3 linked regions of the Homo sapiens genome follow. The protein of the gene in region 3 purifies or fractionates together with the protein of the main gene of each other region. This does not show direct contact. Each region holds a gene or a part of one and is shown on either strand. Other genes may lie near its edges.

Evidence for each region. The genes of interacting proteins can lie anywhere in the genome.
Region 1: the proteins of PHETA1 (region 3) and SPG7 purify together in Homo sapiens (affinity purification with mass spectrometry; 2 studies listed by BioGRID and IntAct, with this or other methods). This does not show direct contact.
Region 2: the proteins of PHETA1 (region 3) and INPP5B purify together in Homo sapiens (affinity purification with mass spectrometry; 2 studies listed by BioGRID and IntAct, with this or other methods). This does not show direct contact.

The regions. Positions count from the first base shown.
Region 1 is NC_000016.10:89,546,403-89,553,428, forward strand, and holds part of SPG7 (mitochondrial inner membrane m-AAA protease component paraplegin isoform 1 precursor), read left to right. Parts: intron 1-255; coding exon 256-358; intron 359-1,600; coding exon 1,601-1,711; intron 1,712-2,292; coding exon of another isoform or gene 2,293-2,315; exon of another isoform or gene 2,316-2,380; intron 2,381-4,091; coding exon 4,092-4,207; intron 4,208-6,576; coding exon 6,577-6,733; intron 6,734-7,026. UniProt on the Homo sapiens protein: Catalytic component of the m-AAA protease, a protease that plays a key role in proteostasis of inner mitochondrial membrane proteins, and which is essential for axonal and neuron development.
Region 2 is NC_000001.11:37,860,171-37,867,053, forward strand, and holds the end of INPP5B (type II inositol 1,4,5-trisphosphate 5-phosphatase isoform 1 precursor), read right to left. Parts: intron 6,593-6,883; coding exon of another isoform or gene 6,496-6,592; intron 6,374-6,495; coding exon 6,289-6,373; intron 5,719-6,288; coding exon 5,591-5,718; intron 4,254-5,590; coding exon 4,142-4,253; intron 2,261-4,141; coding exon 2,145-2,260; 3' UTR 527-2,144; downstream 1-526. UniProt on the Homo sapiens protein: Hydrolyzes phosphatidylinositol 4,5-bisphosphate (PtIns(4,5)P2) and the signaling molecule phosphatidylinositol 1,4,5-trisphosphate (PtIns(1,4,5)P3), and thereby modulates cellular signaling events.
Region 3 is NC_000012.12:111,360,160-111,366,102, forward strand, and holds the end of PHETA1 (sesquipedalian-1), read right to left. Parts: intron 5,493-5,943; exon of another isoform or gene 5,408-5,492; coding exon of another isoform or gene 5,405-5,407; intron 5,398-5,404; exon of another isoform or gene 5,236-5,397; intron 3,305-5,235; coding exon of another isoform or gene 3,269-3,304; coding exon 2,519-3,268; 3' UTR 520-2,518; downstream 1-519. UniProt on the Homo sapiens protein: Plays a role in endocytic trafficking. Required for receptor recycling from endosomes, both to the trans-Golgi network and the plasma membrane.

The DNA of each region.
Region 1 (7,026 bases), on a different chromosome or scaffold from region 3:
CATGGTGGCTCACGCCTGTAACCCCAGCACTTTGGGAGGCCGAGGCAGGTGGATCACTTGAAGCCAGGAGTTCGAGACCAGCCTAGCCAACTTTGCGAAACCCCGTCTCTACTAAAAATACAAAACTCAGGCATGATGGCACACACTTGTAATCCCAGCTACTTGGGGACCCCCCCCCCCCACAGACAAACATGCCGCACCTGTGGCAGTAACTAGGCTTGAGCCCGACTGTCTTTCCTCCCCTGGTTCTGGCAGGAGAGGCGGGAGATTTTTGAGCAGCACCTGAAGAGCCTGAAGCTGACCCAGTCCAGCACCTTTTACTCCCAGCGTCTGGCAGAGCTGACACCAGGATTCAGTGGTACGTTCTCAACCCGCAGCCTGGGCAGCGTCACGTCCTGAGGGCAGGTGGTGTCACCTGCGCAAACAGCATCGAGGCCTCCTCTGTGGGGTGGGCGCTGCTCCTTCTCTGGGGGCCTCTGCTCAGTACAAGCCTGGGAGGGAGCTGATGTGTATGTGGGGCAGCAGGAGGTCCAGACGGCACCCGCACTCCGTCCTCCGCCCCGGGGTGGAAAAGCAGACGGTGGTTCCCGGTCTGTGTTGTTTCCAGAGATAGTGGAGTTATGTTGCTTCCACACAGTGACCAGTCATGCCGGCGTTTCCCGTCAGACCCAGAGTCAGACCACGCAGTCCCGGCAAAGCCGCCTCCCTCTGACCCTCACGGTCTCTGTCAAGTTGTAGAAATAGAAATCATACCTCAAGATGCTTTTCCTGCTGTGTGGTTCACATTTTAAAAGTTAATGTCAACAAACCTCCCTTTTATTATGAGATGAATTTGCCCTTTGATTATTCGTTAGGGTCTTTCACTAGAATTTTGTGGTTACTAGAGAGCCTTTAATTTCTTTGCCATCAATGCTCATGAGCTGTTAGGTGGAATCAGCCACAAGATGGGGTGTGGAACTAACTGCCCTTGGGAGGAGAGACGGGCGTCAGGGCGGATGGAGCCTGGCGGTTCTGTGTCTCGTCTGTGGAATGGCCTCAGTGGAACACGGTGCAAGTGCCTGCCGCTCTCCCCACCCCTGCTCCTGGCGCCGGCGCCTGCCGCTCTCCCCAGCTCTGCTCCTGGCGCCAGCTCCCCGTGCCTCTCTCCCAGACGCTCTCACCAGCACTCTTGGTTCTTGGTCTCTTTTCCCTCTTTGTTCTTCCTTTTATTTATTTACTTATTTATTTTGAGACAGAGTCCTACTCTGTCGCCCAGACTGGAGTGCAGTGGCGTGATCTTGGCTCCCCGCAGCCTCCGCCTCCTGGGTTCAACCGATTTTCCTGCCTCAGCCTCCTGAGTAGCTGGGATTACAGGCGCTCACCACCACGCCCGGCTAATTTTTGTATTTTTAGTAGCAATAGGGTTTCACCCTGTTGGCCAGGCTGGTCTCAAACTCCTGACCTCAGGTGATCTGCCCACCTCAGCCTCCCAAAGTGCTGGGATTACAGGGGTGAGCCACCATGCCCGGCCATCTTTGTTCTCCCTTGAGGGCCCCTTCCTCCTCTTAAGCCCTGATAGCAGAAACCCACCCACCCACACCGTGGCTGTTTGTGTTGACAGGGGCTGACATCGCCAACATCTGCAATGAGGCTGCGCTGCACGCGGCGCGGGAGGGACACACTTCCGTGCACACTCTCAACTTCGAGTACGCCGTGGAGCGCGTCCTCGCAGGTACAGGGGGCGCGCCCTGGGTGAAGGCCCTCCTTAGCAGGGCTTGAACCCCAGAAATACCCAGGCAGGTATTGAGAGGTGAGGTGGATGGAACCATCACACAGGAAGGAACACACGTTGCGTTTCAGTTCTGCGTAACTCATGTCTTTATGATACCTTGTACTTTTCCTTAGTTTAAAATATCACAGATTTACCTAAGAGTAGACGCTCGTCCAACAGAAATAAAAAATGCCTTGCCAAAGAAAGTGAAAAAATAAAAATAAAAAATGCCCCCCAAAAATAAAAATAATAAAAACTAAAAATGTCTTGCCAGCCTGGGTGTGGTGGGCTCAGCCTAGCCCCAGCCTCATGGGGGCTGAGCTCCAGCCGCTGACTGTGGGCCGGAGGGCTGCTGCCGCCCGTGGCTGTGGAGGGACAGCCGTGCTTTCAGCGCAGCAGGGGCTCTGCGGAGAGGTGTGGATCTGCAGCACCACCTCTGGTGAAACTCATGGTCCCGACCGTCAGTAGGAACGGGAGATGAGTTTTGGTGACGGGTGACCGGTGGGCTGACCGCCTCTGACTGCCGTTCCGTGGCTGCTCAGTGTGGGGTCTGCGACGTCTGTGAGGAGAGAGGACCAAACTGGGAATCGGAGCTGCTGGAGGTTTCCATAGCTATGATGGCAACACCCAGACGTGATCAGTCATCTCATGGAATGGAGTTCAGACCCGCACTGTCAGTGTGAGACAGGTTGAACGTTTGAAAAGGGAAGTGGTTCTTGCCCCAGGTGTTTGAGGAGCACGAGCCTCCTTTGCGAGCTATCCCTGCGAGAACCGAGTTCCTCACCCTCAATTCGAGTGAATTCCTAGCACGAACACGCCTCTTGCAGGTCCCCAGGGCTTCAGCTTGGGAAAGCAGTGGGTTCCTGCAGAGGAGTGGGGCAGCTGCTGTGCCAGACACTGCAAAACACACCTGGCTTCTCTCCGACAGCCCTGCGGGTCGAGAGGACTGGCGCTGCCTGTGTCTTACTGAAATTTATTTTCGTGTAACCATTTACTTTTATGTGGAAATCGAAAAGCTTTTGATAATAGTAGCAAAGCAGGAAGGACTGAGTGGGAACCACAAGCCAGTTGAAAGAAAATACATGACGTACTTGAGTGCTCAGGACCACGAGCTGATTCAAGTTGTACAGAATGGACACTTACAGATGTGTGGAAAATCTGAGACAGGAAATGAAGCCTCACCAGTAAGCTGAACAGGGGAGATTTAATGCAAACATTTGTCCCTGGCTGGGCACTGTGGCTCATGCCTGTAATCCCAGCACTTTGGGGGCTGAGGCAGGAGGGTTGCTTGAGGCCAGGAGTTTGAGACCAGCCTGGGCAATACAGCAAGACCCCATCTCTTAAAAGAAAAGAATAAAGAGTATTAGCCAGGCATGGTGGTGGAGCACACCTCTGGTCTCAGCTACTCAGGAGGCTGCAGCAGGAGGATTGCTTGAACCTGGGAGGTTGAAGCAACAGTGAGCCGTGATCGCACCACTGCCCTCCAGCCTGGGCAACAGAGTGAGACCCTGTCACTGACAGAAAAAAAGCCTTGTCCCTGAGGCAAAAAGCTTCTGAAGGGGTGAGTAGAAGCCATAAGGATCCAGAAAGTGATGGGGATGGGAGCTGCGCCTCCAGGTCTGAGGGGAGAGGGAAAGTAAGCAGGAGGCCCGTAACTCAGAGGAGGCCTCTGCCCATCCTGCCAGGGAGAAAGTCAAAAGCTGCTGTTCTGTGACCCTTGCCCCGACCCTGTGGCACCCCCCCAACCATGGGGCAGGAGGAGACACTCCTCAGAGGGTTGCACTTGTTCCTAAAAGCAGCAGGAGCTATTTCGATGATTGCAACATTTATAAAAGAAGAAATCACGACCTCCTTCAACAGCCCTTTGACCTGAAGAGTGTCGTTTTGAGTTGGGGTGTCCAGAGCCGCAGCTGCAGCTCCAAGAGGCAGATGTGCAGAGAGAGGCTTGCTTTGACCACACGGGGCAGGAGCAGGGCCCAGCCAGGGAGAGGCCGGGGTCTCAGCTCACCCCCCCGTCATTCTTTTTTGTTTGTTTTTTGAGACGGAGTCTTGCTCTGTCGCCCAGCCTGGAGTGCAGTGGCATGATCTTGCCCTACTGTAACCTCCGTCTCTCAGGTTCAAGTGATTCTCTTGCCTCAGCCTCCCAAGTAGCTGGGACTGCAGGCGCCCGCCATCACACCTAGCTAATTTTTCTATTTTTAGTAGGGACGGGGTTTCACCATATTGGTCGGGCTGGTCTCGAACTCCTGTCCTCAGGTCATCCGCCCGCCTTGGCCTCCCACAGCGCTGGGATTACAGGCGTGAGCCACCGCGCCCAACTCATACCCCGGCATTCTTTCAGGGACTGCCAAAAAGAGCAAGATCCTGTCCAAGGAAGAACAGAAAGTGGTTGCGTTTCATGAGTCGGGCCACGCCTTGGTGGGCTGGATGCTGGAGCACACGGAGGCCGTGATGAAGGTGGGTCTTGGCAGGTGCCGGCTCCACGGGCCTTGGCCAAAGGTGGGTGGGGAGTCCCGCCTGTGTCTGTAGCTGACTGGGGAGTCCCGCCTGTGTCTGTAGCTGACTGGGGAGTCCCGCCTGTGTCTGTAGGTCATGTGAGAGGAAAGCCTGCCACTGTCATGATCCATGGAGCAGGGTGGGTGGCGACTGATGGGCGGGAACTCGGACGTGGGAGGCAGGAGTGGGCTGTGTCACATCGGAGCATGGTGCTGCTACTGGGGTGACTCGTGGAAGGTTACACCATGCAATGGGGTTTCGCTGCCTTTGCCTGTCCACCCCAAATGACTCCTAACATTGGAAAGAAGTGAGTTGAGTGTACATTTAAAAAATACTATTCTAGGCTGGGCATGGTGGATCACCTGAGGTCAGGAGTTCAAGACCAGCCTGGCCAACAGGGCAAAACTGTCTCTACTTCAAACAAACAAACAAAAAACTACTCTTGTAGGCAGCTGTGAACTCGATGGACATTTATTCTTACCAAATGGTGATGTTACAGCTTCTCTAAGACGTGGCTCCACCACCGGGAGTCCGAGTGCTGCCAAGAGGAGGTCTCTACTCGGAACGCAGGTGCCGTCTTTACAGTGGAGCCCCAGGAAGCCGTGCAGGTTTGAGGCTCACCTGAGAAGGCGGCAGTGCTGTGTTCCTACCTCAGGGTTCACTGCAAACAATGCATACGCTGTAGCAGTTGCCAGCTTGGTTTGTCAGTGCTGGTCTCCGTGATTGGTTCTCAGGTGTGAGTTGTAGCAAAGTTGCGTGTTAATCAGAGAGCGTCCTGCCCATCCCAGGGTCTCAGCAGGGCTGAGGCAGCGTTTGGGGACCAGATCCGTGCTGCTCCTTGGCGATGTGCACCACAGTCATGGGACCAGAGCTAGGCCCACTGTGGGGCGAGTGGACACTCAGCTGGGGGTCCCATTTATGGGACACTAAAAAACTCAGCAGTGAACACGACGTTTTAACACGGTATGTCAAGAAATCAAAATTAATGCAGGGACTTTGGGAGGCCAAGGCGGGCAGATCACTTGAGGTCAGGAGTTCGAGACCAGCCTGGCCAACCTGGTGAAACCCCATCTCTACCAAAAATACAAAAGAATTAGCTGGGCGTGGTGGTGCGTACCTGTAACCCTAGCCACTTGAGAGGTAGAGGCACAAGAATCGCTTAAACCCGGGAGGCAGAGTCTGCAGTGAGCCAAGACTGTGCCACTGTACTCCAGCCTGGGTGACAGAGCAAGACTGTCTCTCAAAGGGAAAAAAAAAGAATTTTTACTGTATTTGATGGGCAAAAGTCAGATAGTCACAATGAAAAAGTGAGTCTCTTTCCCAAGGCTCAGTGTCCTGCCAGGAAAAGGTTGTGAATTGGCTGTTATGGTTTTGGTCATTAATGCAATCATCACTGCAGCCGTTATTTAGAGCTTCTTTTTGTTTTGAGACAGGGTCTCTCTCTCTGTTGCCCAGACCGGAGTCCAGTGGTGCGATCACAGCTCACTGCAGCCTCGACCTTCCGGGCTCACACGATCCTCCTACCTCAGCCTCCTGCATAGCTGGGACTACAGGCATGCCCCACTGGTGGCTCGAGTGATTTTTATATTTTTTGTAGCGAAGGGGTCTCGTTATGTTGCCCAGGCTAGTCTCGAACTCCTGGGCTCATGCAATCTGCCCACCTCTAACTCCCAAAGTACCGAGATCACAGATGTGAGCGACCCCGCCCAGCCTAGTTTTAGATTTTAAATTAAGCGTCCTCGGGATTCTCAGAGCACTTGGATGTGGCCATCTCGCCGCCACAATTCTCAGAAGCAGCAGCTGGGCCAGCCCCTGCCCCGTCTCCGTCCGTCTCCCACTCAGCGGTTCCGTGTTGTCGAGTTAGCTCGTTGCCCCGCGCCACCTCCTTGCACACCTGATGTGGGGCTGTGGGGGAGCAGCAGAGGTGAGGACAGCCTCTGCTGCCTCAGCATCGTGGGGTTCTCATTGCTCTGAACCCTCAGTAGCTGTCGCTGGTGTGAGGGGTCAGCGCAGCGGCCATCGGGGGTGAAACTTGTCCTTCGCCTCTCAGCTGTCTTCTACGGGCCTTGTCTTCTTGACTCCCTGCCTGTCTAGTCATGTATGAGAAGACACTTCCCGGCAGTGTGTGAACAGGCACCTGTGGTGGGAACGCTGCTGTCTCTGGGCTGGCCATCTAGAGTGTTAGGATCCCCTGTTGTTGTAGAGGATGCTGCACATTTGCCTTCCTGCTTTGAGACGCTTTAATGACGGAGACCTCTTAGTCCCACACCTTCCTCCTCAAAGCCCACGCATCCTGCCTACTGACCTGGGTCATCTTGACCTTGTGCCAGGTCTCCATAACCCCTCGGACAAACGCCGCCCTGGGCTTTGCTCAGATGCTCCCCAGAGACCAGCACCTCTTCACCAAGGAGCAGCTGTTTGAGCGGATGTGCATGGCCCTGGGAGGACGGGCCTCGGAAGCACTGTCCTTCAACGAGGTCACTTCTGGTGAGGAGCAGCGGCGCGGGCCCTGGAGGTTTCAGAGCGCTTTTCCCTGCATGACTCCTTCTGTTCCAGTGCATGCCATGGGGTGAATCTGGTGTAGACGTAGCTTTGAATTTATTAAGTATTTTGTAAAAGATAAGTTGTGGTCATAAGAGAGTTGGAGCTAAGCAAGACTTCTTAGATAATTTAATTGGACAAAAACTTAACCTATATGCCAACTCTAGACACATTTAATTGGTTAATTGTTGGTAATGGCTACAGGAAACGGAATAAAATTGAAGCGGCTTCATTGTTCT
Region 2 (6,883 bases), on a different chromosome or scaffold from region 3:
CCCAGCTCCCTTCTCACGCGCTTGCCCAGGCTGGCGGTCCCAACTTTCTTCCCCTGCAAGAGGACGCGGCTACGGCGGGACTCATGCCCGGGCCAGTTAGCGCCACCTACCGGCCACTCCCTTCCTTTCACCGTTCACATTGTCCTGCTGGCCCGCGTCTTAAACCCATTTCACAGTGCCCAGAAGTAGTGGGCATTCGTACCCAGGAAGCGATTCTGCCTTCGTTATGCCCCTGTCCTTTCCAAATGCCTGGAGGATCTAGCTGTTAGATCCTCCCAGCTGCCACTGCCTGTTTTAACCATAAGCTGCTTCTCTCGAATATTCAGAGTGGGACAACTCCAAAGACCAGACCAGGGGTCAAGGGGTTCAGGTCAGTGCCATAACCATTTCTTGCTGGAAGTATGTGAATAGTGACTGGTACCCACCAGACTGCCAGGAATATGTCTCTTTGGCCCCAAGGCTTGAGCCACAAAATCCAGCTGCAGCGAACTGCCATCTCTTAAGACATAAAAACATACACAACCGCCACTGTTAAAAATACATTTATCATTAAAATATATTACACATGGAGACAGGATGCATCATATACAGTTTGGAAGACTTGCTGGCCCAGAAAATCCCACTTGTTTCACCGAACACTCATTTTTTCAGTGATTTTACATTTTATTTTTAGAGACGGGGTCTCCCTCTCTCACCCGGGCTGGCGTACAGTGATGTGGTCATAGGTCACTGCAGCCTCAAACTCCTGTGCTCAAGTGAGCCACCCACGTCAGCCTCCCAAGTAACTGGGACCACAGGCATGCATCACCACACCCAGCTAATTTTTTAAAAATGTTTTTGTAGAGAGGGGGTCTCCCTGTGTTGCCCAGCCTGGTCCCAAACTCCTGGTCTCAAGTGATGCTCCCACCTCAGTCTCCCAAAGTGCCGAGATTACAGGCGTGAGCCACTGTGCCTGGTCATTTTAATTTTTTAAATGCCTGTATTGCCCTCAGAGGCTGAGCAACCAGCCTCAGAGTTATTGAGCCATTATCTGGGCAGGAACGGGGGTCGAGTTTGCATATGCATATACACATCCTCAGACAGAGCACTGAAAGCATCTGAGGTGGCTGTAGCCTATTTTATCCAGCAGCTTCTGCCTGCATTCTTGCCATCCAACTCATTGGCCTTTCAGGACTTTCCATCAAATATCTGATCATGGGGATCTCAGCCCAGACTGACTATGCCCTGGAGGTAGGGTGAGTGAGTACAAGTACAGTTATTTAAAAACATTTTAGGCCAGGCGTGGTGGTTCATGCCTGTAATCCCAGCACTTTGGGAGGCCAAGGCAGGTGGATCACCTGAGGCCAGGCATTCGAGACCAGCCTGGCCAACATGGTGAAACCGTGTCTATACTAAAAACACACAAAAAAATTAGCCAGGCATGGTGGCGGACGCCTATAATCCCAGCTACTCGAGAGGCTGAGGCAGGAGAATTGCTTGAACCAAGGAGGCAGAGGTTGCAGTGAGCCAAGACCACGCCAACGCACTCCAGCCTGGGCAACAAGAGTGAAACTCCATCTCAAAAAAGAAAAAAAAAAAAAAAAGGCCGGGCGTGGTGGCTCACATCTGTAATCCTAGCACTTGGGGAGGCCGAGGCAGGCAGATTACCTGAGTTCAGGAGTTTTAGAACAGCCTGGGCAACACGGTGAAACCCCGTCTCTACTAAAATGCAAAAAATTAGCTGGGCGTGGCAGTGTGTGCCTGCAGTCCCAGCTACTCGGGAGGCTGAGGCAGGATAATTGCTTGCACCCAGGAGGCAGAGGTTGCAGTGAGCCGAGATCGTGCCACCGCACTCCACCCTGCGCGACAGAGCAAAACTCCGTCTCAAAATAAAAAAAAATAAAAAATAAAAAAATCTGTGTTAAATAACTAAAGTTGAAAATTGAATGTCAGTTTTATTATGGTGGATTTTCTCCCGTGTCTTCACGACTCACAGCGCTGAGTGTGCTAACCAATGGTGGGCTTAATTGGGGTACTAGGCTCAGGAAATAGCTGCCATTCTTGCTACCAAGTGGCCTCACATAATTATCTTAAGGCATCTCTTGAGCTGAAACAGGTGGGGCTGGTAATTGGCAGCCTCAAGTAAAATAGGAGGAGAGAGAGGCTCAGAGTGGGTTGCAGAGGAACTGGTGAATAAATTCTTGAGCCTTCTTCTTCTCTGTCATATCAAGCTTTTGGTGACCAGCTGGGTTTCGAAGCAATAAGCTGCCAAATATGCTAGCTGCAAGAAAAAACACAGAAAAGAAATGATTCAGCAAAAGAAGGTACTAAAGACACACATCACTTAACGACAGGGATATGTTCTGAGAAATGTGTCATTAGGTGATTTCATCATTGTGCAAACATCATAGCGTGTACTTAAACTTTCACAAACCTGTACTTACACAATTCTAGATGGTATAGTCTATTGCTCCTAAGCTCCTGTACAGCATGTTACTATACTGAATACTACAGGCAATTGTAACACAGTGCTAAGTATTTGTGCATCCAAATATATCTAAACATAGGAAAGGCACATCAAAAATACGGTATTATGAGCTGGGTGTGGTGGCTCACACCTATAATCCCAGCACTTTGGGAAGCCAAAGCGGGCAGATCACTAGAGGCCAGGAGTTCAAGACCAGCTAGGCCAACATGGTAAAACCCCATCTCTACTAAAAATAACAAAAATTAGCCTGTCCCTGCCAGTGGGCTTTCCAAGGGGAATGGTGCTGTGTCAGAGGTGGCTGAGGTTGGGGGGTTGTGGGGGAGGCAGCCCTGCTTGGTGTCCTGCCTCTCTGGTTCCTGCCTCCTCCCCCAACCACCCCGTGTCCCCAGTGGGGGCTCGTCCCCAGGATGCGATGAGGTTCCATGAGCGTGGTAGGGATGGTTGAGGCACGGGCGTTGGAGGGTGTGGCCCGGTGGCCCCTGTCCAAGGGTTGGCTGTGAGGGCCTGGGTGACCATCTGGCTCCCACTGGCTCCCAGCCCTCTCCCATCCTGCAGTGGGGAGGGTCACTGCCCTTTAAAAAAAAAAAAAAAAAAAAGGCAGGGTGCGGTGGCTCAGGCCTGTAATCCCAGCACTTTGGGAGGCCGAGGCGGGTGGAATCACGAGGTCAAGAGATTGAGACCATCCTGGCCAACATGGTAAAACCCTGTCTCTAATAAAAATACAAAAATTAGCTGGGCATGGTGGTGCGCGCCTGTAGTCCCAGCTACTCGGGAGGCTGAGGCAGGAGAATTGCTTGAACCCGGGTGGCGGAGGATGCAGTGAGCTGAGATCACGCCACTGCACTCCAGCCTGGCGACAGAGCGAGACTCCATCTCTAAAAAATTAAATTAAATTAAATTAAAAAGCTGGGCATAGTGGCAAGCGCCTATAATCCCAGCTACTCAGGAGGCCGAGGCACAAGAATCACTTGAACCCAGGAGGCAGAGGTTGCAGTGAGCTGAGATCACACCACTGCACTCCAGCCTGGGTGACAGAGTGAGACTTTCTCAAGCACACACACACACACACATGCACACACAAACACACACGCACAAAACCACGGTATTATAATCTTATGGGCCCTCCATCGTATATGTGGTCTTTCGTTGACCAAGATGTTATATGGTACATGACTATACTTTTTTTTTTTTTTTTGAGATGGAGTCTCACTCTGTCGCCCAGGCTGGAGTGCAGTGGTGCGGTCTCGGGTCACTGCAGCCTCCGCCTCCCAGTTTCAAGCGATTCTCCTAACTCAGCCTCCCGTTTAGCTGGGATTACAGGCATGCACCACCACACTCAGCTAATTTTTGTATTTTTAGTAGAGATGGGGTTTCACCATGTTGGCCAGGCTGGTCTTGAACTCCTGACCTCAGGTGATCCGTCCACCTGAGCCTCACAAAGTGCTAGGACTACAGGTGTGAGCCACCGCCCCCAGCCCATGACTATACTTACTCTTGTGTTGTTAGGAGTGGGGAGGAGTGTCCAAACGCAAAACTTTCTGCTTTAAAAAATCTTTGCCCAGAGCTTGATATTTTAGTTCTACTGCAAGGGACCTGGGACCCTCCTCAACCTCATTTCTCATTACGAGTCTCTCAGTTTGCAGAAATGCTTTCCATAGACATTTGGCTGCTTACCTAGAATATTCTCATCCAAATGATTTTTTGCTGAATTTTTCAGCAGTTCTCGCAAAAACGCCATCAAGTAGTGGAAGACATTTTTGTGGAATATGGGGAGAGTAGAAATGACCTGAAAGAGGAAGAACCGGGATTTGTCTTTTGTTCACTGAATCATTTCTCAAGTGCCTACTATAGTCCAAGAACTGTATACACGATCCAAGTGCACGAGAAAGACTGTGCACAGAAAACTGGTTGCTTACCACTTGGCATAAGTATCAAAAGAGAGGTACGGGTCAAATGCAACATGAATTTAGAAGTCAAACTTTTAACTACATGTTCCTATAAGACTGAAAGAAATAAGACATTTTAGTTGGGTCTTGAATGTAAGACAAAATGGGACTTACAGAGGTTAATAACTGGGGTGAGAGCAAAGAAAGTATAAAAAAAGGGCAGGAGAAGGGAAATAGTGAAGTAAGTAGAGAGAACACTTTATGAGAAGTCAATTTTGGCAGGAGCATAATTAGAAGGGTTGATCAGGCCCTGATCAATGAGTACTCCAGCTATCTGCATATCAGAATCAGTTTGGAAGTTTGAATAGATTCCAAAAGTGATTATGGGCTCAGTGGCTCATGCCTGTAATCCCAGCACTTTGGGAGGCCGAAGAGGGTGGATCACCTGAGGTCAGTAGTTCAAGACCAACCTGGCCAACATGGTGAAACCCCATCTCTACTAAAAATACAAAAATTAGCCAGGCATGGTGGTGCACGCCTGTAATCCCAGCTACTCAGGAGGCTGGGGCAGGAGAATCGCTTGAACCTGGGAGGCATTACAGTGAGCTGAGATCGCGCCAATGCACTCCAGCCTGGGTGACACAGCAAGACTCCATCTCAAAAAAAAAAAAAGTGTGATTCAGTAGATTTGGGGTGTGGCTTTAGAATCTCTATTATTGGCAAGTTTTCTAGATTATTCTGCCAAGGCCTGTTGTATGTGTGAACCACCAAGCTAGATCATAGAACGTCTTCAATATTTAAGAAAATCAGTAATTGGCAATAGAGAGCCAAGTATAGTTTTTGACCAACAGTCACATGACAATAGCTTTAGAATACACAATCTGATGGCAGCATGCAAAACAAATCAGCAGAAGGAGATCGTGAATGCAGGGCACTGAACCAAGCTAAGTGCAATGAGAATGGAAGAGAGAGGATGGGTGATAGATCAACGAGACTGGGCACATGGGAGGCAAGGAGAGGGTGGAGTCAGAAATGACTCAGGTTTCGGGGTTGACTCACTGGAATTAAGGGTGATGCCATTAAAAGAAACAAAGACATAAGAGAAAGAGCAGGTTTGAGAAGGAAAGATAAGGTGTTCAGTTTCTGAGATGCTGCACTTGAGGAACTGTGTCCACTCTGTTCCCTTAGCCCCATGGGGTCTGGGGCTAACCACATGCTGCTCAATGCTTCCTCTCACCTGTTTGCTTGCTGTGTAGTTGCCAGAACACTCCAAGCAGTTATGGTAGGTGCTGTAACAGATGACAGGCTCTGGAAGGCTCTCCAGGAAAAGCAGCAGGGCTTCGGCTACAGAATGATTGCTGGCAGCTTTTGGCCCCATTGTTAAGGAACCGATAATGCTGCTGTCCATGGTTAGGAAAAGGCCCAGGAGCAAGCACATGCCAGAAGTGCTGCCTGCCCTGTCAGGCTCTCTGCTCAGGGCTAGGATGCCAGCCTAACTTCTCGAAGGGACCACACTGTTTGTCAGGTGAGCCAGGCCCTCCTGAGTTCCTGCTCTATTGGTTGCTTAAAGTTGTAAATTCTTAGCCTGGGCAACATGGCGAAACCCTGCCTCTACGAAAAGTTCAAAAATTAGCCAAGTGTGGTAGTATGCACCTGTGGTCCCAGCTACTCGGGAGGCTGAGGTGGGAGGCTCCACAGGCTCCAGCCTGGGTGATAGAGATGGACCCTGTCTCAAAAAATAAATAAATAAAGTTGTAAAGTCTTCTCTATGCAAACTTTAAGTAAAACATGGTAGCTGAGGATACAATATCAGATTTTGAGCCATAAAATACTTTACTTTTTCTCACCCCTCTCACTCATATTCTCTCTCTCTCTCTCTCTCTCACACACACACACACACACACACACACACAGAGCTGAATGTCTGAAGGATACAGAGGTTATCAATCATTCCAGTATCCAAGCAGTCCCTGATATGTTCAAATTCTGACCTCAGGCCTGGTTGCTGAAACAGATCTTCCTGCAAAAGGGAAGACAGTAACAAAATAATTATTTTCTCAGAAAATCATCAATGATTTCCTGACCTGGCAATATCAATAGCAGAATGCAAAAAGGAGCAGTGTGGTGAGGCCTCTGAATCACCTGACAGATGATCTGATTTAGGCTGATGTGGCGAATTCATCTTGCAGGCCTTCCCTGGCATGTTTCTACAATAGGTCTTCAGGCATCTATTATAAAACTATGGGTAGGGCACACATCACACAAGAAGATCCAACATTGGAGAAAATGTAAAAGCAGCTATGTGTCCTGCAGTGGTATAGAGGGATTACCCAGGGGAAAAAAAATGAAGAAAATATACAGTGCATAAGAGCATAAGAGAACGCTAACAAGGCACCTCAATGCTTTGGGCAAATAAAATTATGGCAGCCATCAGGCGTGTTGGCTTATGCCTGTAATCCCAGAACTTTGGGAGGCAGAGGCGGGTGGATCACGAGGTCAGGAGATTGAGACCATCCTGGCCAACACGGTG
Region 3 (5,943 bases):
CCCTCTGAACTTGCATTGGTGCTAGAATCCTCTTCACTCCAGCTCCCTCCACAGCCTCCATGAACTTATCAGTGAGAAGCACGCAGTTTCGACTCTTCCATCTGCCATCCTGATCAGGATTGTTAATGTCCCTCCCAACTCTCAGGTCTTCAGCCCAGTTAGCTTTCAAATCTTTGGCTTCTCCCTGCCTTCTCTACCTTCTGAAAAGGAACTTTGGGCTCCGTTTTCCCTCATATTCCTCCTGAAGACTCTGTCCTGTCACGGGATTTCAGAGATTTACATCCCTGCTCTTATACTCTCTAGCTATGTGGCTTTGGCAAGTTTCATAACCTCAGTGAGCCTGTTTCCACATCTGTAAAACGGGACCAGCATCTGCCTTGAGAAGTGAGAACGTGCCTGGCAGGGCACCAGCCATGTGGGACCACACACTAGTCCCTGCCCTTGCACAGCCTGCTCTGGGCTCTGCCAGGGAAATCAATCAAGGATTTTGATGGGGAAAAAAAATGACACAATCAGCCATTACTTGACAAAATTTTACTTTAGCCCTTGCATCTCCCTGCCAGGCTGCCGGACAGCTCCCCCGACACCCAACCCAGGAGGCAGCCTGATCCCACCTTGTGCTTTGGTAGGGGACATCCCTCACCCCTCTCTCCCAGGAGACCAGGGCCAACGTACCTTGAGAGTCTGTAAACCTACGCCAGGACTGGGGTTAACACCCCAGCCCACCAGCTGAGTCTGCCAGGACACGGGGCTCTGGGAAGCTCTGAACCCCTCCCATGCCCCAGATCCTGTGCCACCCACACCCACACCACTCAGGACTCTGGAAGGAGGTGAGCGGGGACCATACCAAGACCCCAGAGGTGCCTGTGGAGAGCAGGGCTTGCTGGGGGGAAGACAATGAAGCAGCCAAGGATCCCTCTCGAGGGGCTCTGTCTCTGGCTGTGCTTCTCCAGCCCAAGCTGCCCCTCTCCCCGGGGGCAGTGACAACTGTTCCCCCAGAGCAAGTCCAGAGTCACAGACCGTATCCCCTCCCACCAGCAAACAGGAAACTAAAGCAGTGAAAACATCAAGCTTTGTTGCCAGAGAAAAAAAAATGAACCCTAAGTATTTAAAATTCAGACGGAAGTCCCAGCCCACCGGGCCAGCCGTGAGCTGCAGAGGCCTTGATTGCAGACACACACCCCTCCATATTTCCCCAAGCTCAAGGGTCTCCAGAGACAGAAGGAAGGGGTTTTGGGCTGAGTCTGTCACCAAGAGGCAGCGTTTGGGAAAATCAAGGTCAGGGTGGAGGTGTCCTCAGGGGGCCACCGGTGTGGGGCACTGAGGACTGTAAACATGACCCAGGGTGAGGGCCAGGAGGTGTCCCAGCCCCGAGGTTCTCCCTGGATGAAAAATGGGCACTGTGGTGAGAAGAAAGGGGACCGGCGGTCAGCCCCGAAGCCAAGCAAGACCTGGTCCCCACCAGGAGTATGGGGGTGGGGGCTGAGCTCAGGAGGGGACATGTTAGAGGGGGCTGCCTGGAGCTGAAGAGGGGCTCTGGAAGCCACACTCGGTGTGCGGCTTTTTCTCCGCCACTAGGTCAGCACCTGGGCCTTCCTAGGCGGTGAGTCAGCTGGTGGCCTCCCCTCCCTGGGGGAACCTGCTAGAAGGTCACCTCGGGCCATGGCTACCCAGCCCAGGAAGGGAGGTCAGGCAAGCTCCCAAGGGGCCCCAGGCCTAGGGGCCAAGACTGAAGGATGCAGTCAAGGAGTGTCTGGAGAGCCCTGTGAGAGCCACCACGGAGACACAGACAGGGCCCGCGGCCAGAGAGCCACTGCCACCAGGAGCACCACCATGAGGCCTGGCAGGGGACTTTTGGCAGAGTCCTGCCTCAGCCAGCCCAGGCCAGGAGCCCCGAGGACCAGGCCACCTCACCCTTCCGGTCCTGCACTAACACCTGCACCTGTGTCCCCAGTCACTACCCTCCCAGCCACCGTCCTGCTCCTGGAGGCAGGCAGGCACAGAGCCAGGCCAGCTCCTCTGGCAGGTCCCGGAGCAAGGCCAGGCCCAGGTGTGGCTGCCATGACCGATCCTCCCTCTGTCCACCCTGAAGGCCTGGTCAGGAGCTGCACTAACTGTGCATTTGCTTTTCAGGCCACAGATCGCCCTCAGTCCCAGTGACCCTCTGAGCTGCAGGCCCGGCAATGCCTGTTGCCAGCACAGGCCTCTGCCCGGCAGCTCAGGCCAGCCTGGGGCCGGAGTTCTCAGGAAACCTCCCCCTCAGGCCCTGGATTCTCCTTAGTGTTGCACGTGACGTTCCCCTCAAGGGTAGGCCTTCTGGGTCACATGGTCCTAAAGGCCCACTCAGAATCCAGCACCTTCTCAGAGCCTGCATCCCCCAAAACCAGGCCACTCAGGGCCTGGGGGCCAGCCTTGCCCATGATTTCCCTCAGGATCTGCTCCCCCAGTCTCTCCAGGACCCGGCCTGTCCCAGAGGGCATAGAGCTTGTGTCCCCCTAAAACAGGCGCCCTGGTGGCCTCAGGGCTGGACCCGGCTGCTGAGCCACTGGCCACGCAGGGCCCGGATCTCCTGGCCATAGCACTCGTGCAGCCGGGCGAAGGGGGCCATGTCCAGGGGCCCGTGGGGTGCCGAGGCCCGGCGGCGAGGCGGTGGTGGAGGGGGCTCGGGTCCAGGCCTGAAGGTGGCCTCAGTGCTCCAGACAGCGCAGCCATTCTCCTTGGGCGGGAGGGCACTGGGCCGGCGGGGCAGGGGCAGGGCTGGGACCGGGGCTGGGGCAGAAGGCAGGGATGGGACTGGGGCCAGGGCAGAGGGCAGGGACGGGGGCAAGGGCAGGGACTGGGGCTGGGGCTGGGGCAGGGCCATGCCACCCCCGCCACGTACAGCCGCCAGCTGCTGCTCCAGCTCGCGCACCACCAGCCGCAGGTAGTCGAAGCTGGCACGCGACAGGGCCTTGACCCAGCCCTCCATGGCATCCTGACTCTCAGCGGCCAGCACGTAGGTGCGCGCCCGGGTCCCCGCAAAGCGCACAGCGAAGGCGAACTCCTCGGCGGCCTCCACCAGCTCCACAGTGCAGCCCTCCAGGATGATGACGCCCACGGGCTCACGGCTGGCAGCGTCCTCGAAGTAGAAGAGCATGTTCCCGCGCAGCACGAACCAGCGCCGGTGGTAGGCCGCGTGCCGCCCACCCTTCTTGTACAGGAAGCCTGCATTGTCCACCGGGGCGTCACAGGTGGCGTAGAAGGCCAGGCTGCGCTCGTTCAGCTTCATGGTGGCAATCGCGGGGCCTGGAGGGGAGCCTGGGGCCTGGACCCCATAGAAGGGCTGTTATGCACAAGGCCACTGACGCTAGGTCACCCAGTGCCCCAAGGGGACCTTGCAGCCACTCTACATCCCCGTTTCACAGATGAGGAAACTGACGCTCATAGGGTGGAAGCAGCTGGCCTATGCGCCCACAACTCCTAAGAAGCAGAGACAGGACTGGAACCTGGGTCTCACGGGCCTCCCCAGACAGCCTCATAACCTCCTACCCTCCTGTATCCCTGAAATAATGTTGTGAGTTCCTGCTGCATGCCAGACATTTCAGAGGAATGAACTCACTTTATCTCACAATAGACCTTAGGTCACAGGGACTGGCCTGGCACCAGTGCAACAGATGAGGAAACAGAGGCACAGAGAGGTTAACTGCTTCCCTGGTGTCACAAAGCAGGTTGGGCAGGGCTGAAATCCAAACCCAGGCCTCATTTCAGGCGCTGCTGTTTCCATCATCCCAAGAACAAGACCAGCTGGCCTTCTGCAGTCCCTGCCAGGTCCCAGCCCTGACTTTGTGGTTCGACTTTGGTTTGTTCATCCATGAAATGGATGAGCAGAACCAACTTTGGAGAGTTGTAGAGATTGATTTCATTCATAAAATGTTTATTAAGCATCTACTGGGTGCCAGGCATTGTTCCAGGCCTAGGGATATAGCAATAACAAGATGGACAGGGTCGTCCAGCCTGGCCAACACAGTGAAACCCCTTCTCTACTAAAAATACAAAAAATAAGCCAGGCGTGGTGGCGGGCGCCTGTAATCCCAGCTACTCGGGAGGCTGAGGCAGGAGAATCACCTAAACCCAGGAGGCGGAGGTTGCAGTGAGCCGAGATTATGCCATTGCACTCCAGCCCGGGCAATAATGTGACACTCTGTCTCAAAAAAAAAAAAAAAGATGGACACGGTCCCTGCCCTCGTGGTGTTGAAATGCCACTGGCAAGTGAAAGGGAGCAGACAGTTAACAAACAGATAAGACGTCTGCCAGGTAGTCTCATGTTCTATGGAAAATAGTAAGACAGGGGCTGGGCACAGTGGCTCACGCCTGTAATCCCAGCACTTTGGAAGGCCAAGGCCAATCCTTCTCACCTGAGGTCAGGAGTTCGAGACCAGCCTGGCCAACATGGCAAAACCCCATCTCTACTAAAAAACAGCCAGGTGAGGTGGTGCACGCCCATAATCCCAGCTACTTGGGAGACTGAGGCAGAAGAATCGCTTGAACCCAAGAGGCGGAGGTTGCAGTGAGCCAAGACTGCGCCATTGCAGTCCAGCCTGGGCGACAGAGCAAGACTCCATCTCAAAAAAAAAAAAAAAATAGCCAGGCATGGTGGGGGGTGCCTATAATCCCAGGTACTTGGGAGGCTGAGGCAGGAGAAGTGCTTGAACCCAGGAGACAGAAGTTGCAGTCAGCCGAGATTGCACTACTACACTCCAGCCTGGGGACAGAGCCAGACTCCGTCTCAAAAAAAAAGAAAGAATTTGGGGAAAGATGCAGGCCCAGGGCTAGGCTGACTTACAGGAAGGAGGGGCAGGGGGTCGACCCGTGCCATTTAGCATAGAGGACTCTAACTCCATGCCATCGGCCACAGTGACCCCATCCACCTTCCCCCAAGGAGTATATGATGGGGCAACGCTGGCCAGGAAGGACTTGTCGGGAGGTGGCATCTGCGTCCCTGGCCTGGCCACCTTCCCTTGGGGTTTTCCATGGCCATTTTGAGAGCCTGCCTTATCTCCCACTGCAGAGCCTCAGCCTGCATAGGATGGTAGCTACATTTTTCAAGAAGCAAAGGATATAAAGTCCTGGTACGCAGTAGGCACTCAGTGTTCATTCCCCTGCCTGGGTGGTGTCTTTCTCAGAGCCTGGTGGAATGAGGTCAGGGTGGTGGCTCTCCTGGGAGCAGGTGACCGCAGTGAGGCCCTGCCAGACTACCTGTCCTAGGGTGGAGGGGGTTGTCCTTGCCACCTCCTGTCAGCCACATAGGCAGTCAGGGAAGGCTTCCTAGAAGACGGAACATGAGTTGTGACTTAGAAACTGAGATCAACCAACCCAAATGCCCATCAATGATAGACTGAATAAAGGAAATGTGGTACATACACACCATGGAAAACTATCCAGCCATAAAAAGGAATGAGATCATGTCCTTTGCGGGGAAATAGATGGAGCTGGAAGCCATCATCCTCAGCAAACTAACACAGGAACAGAAAACCAAATACCGCATGTTCTTACTCATAAGTGGGAGTTGAACAATGAGACACATGGACACAGGGAGGGGCAGAACACATATCGGGGCCTGTTGGGGGATCGGGGGTGAGGGGAGGGAACTTAGAGAACGGGTCAATGGTGCAGCAAGCCACCATGGCACACGTATACCTATGTGACAAGCCTGCATGTTCTGCACATGTATCATGGAACTTAAAATAAAAAAAGAAACTGAGGTCAGTTTGTCCTGACCTAGTGGGAGGCCAAGGCCAGAGCCCCCAAAGTCTCCAGGTGTTGAATCCCCACCCTGCCTCTCAGCTACAGCTGTCCCTCTCTAAGCCGCAGGGATTCACGCATTCCCCACACCACCACCCATCAACTCCCATGTGGATGCTGGCCCCGGTTCTCACAGGACCCTCCCGCCCTGCTTGCCCAGTT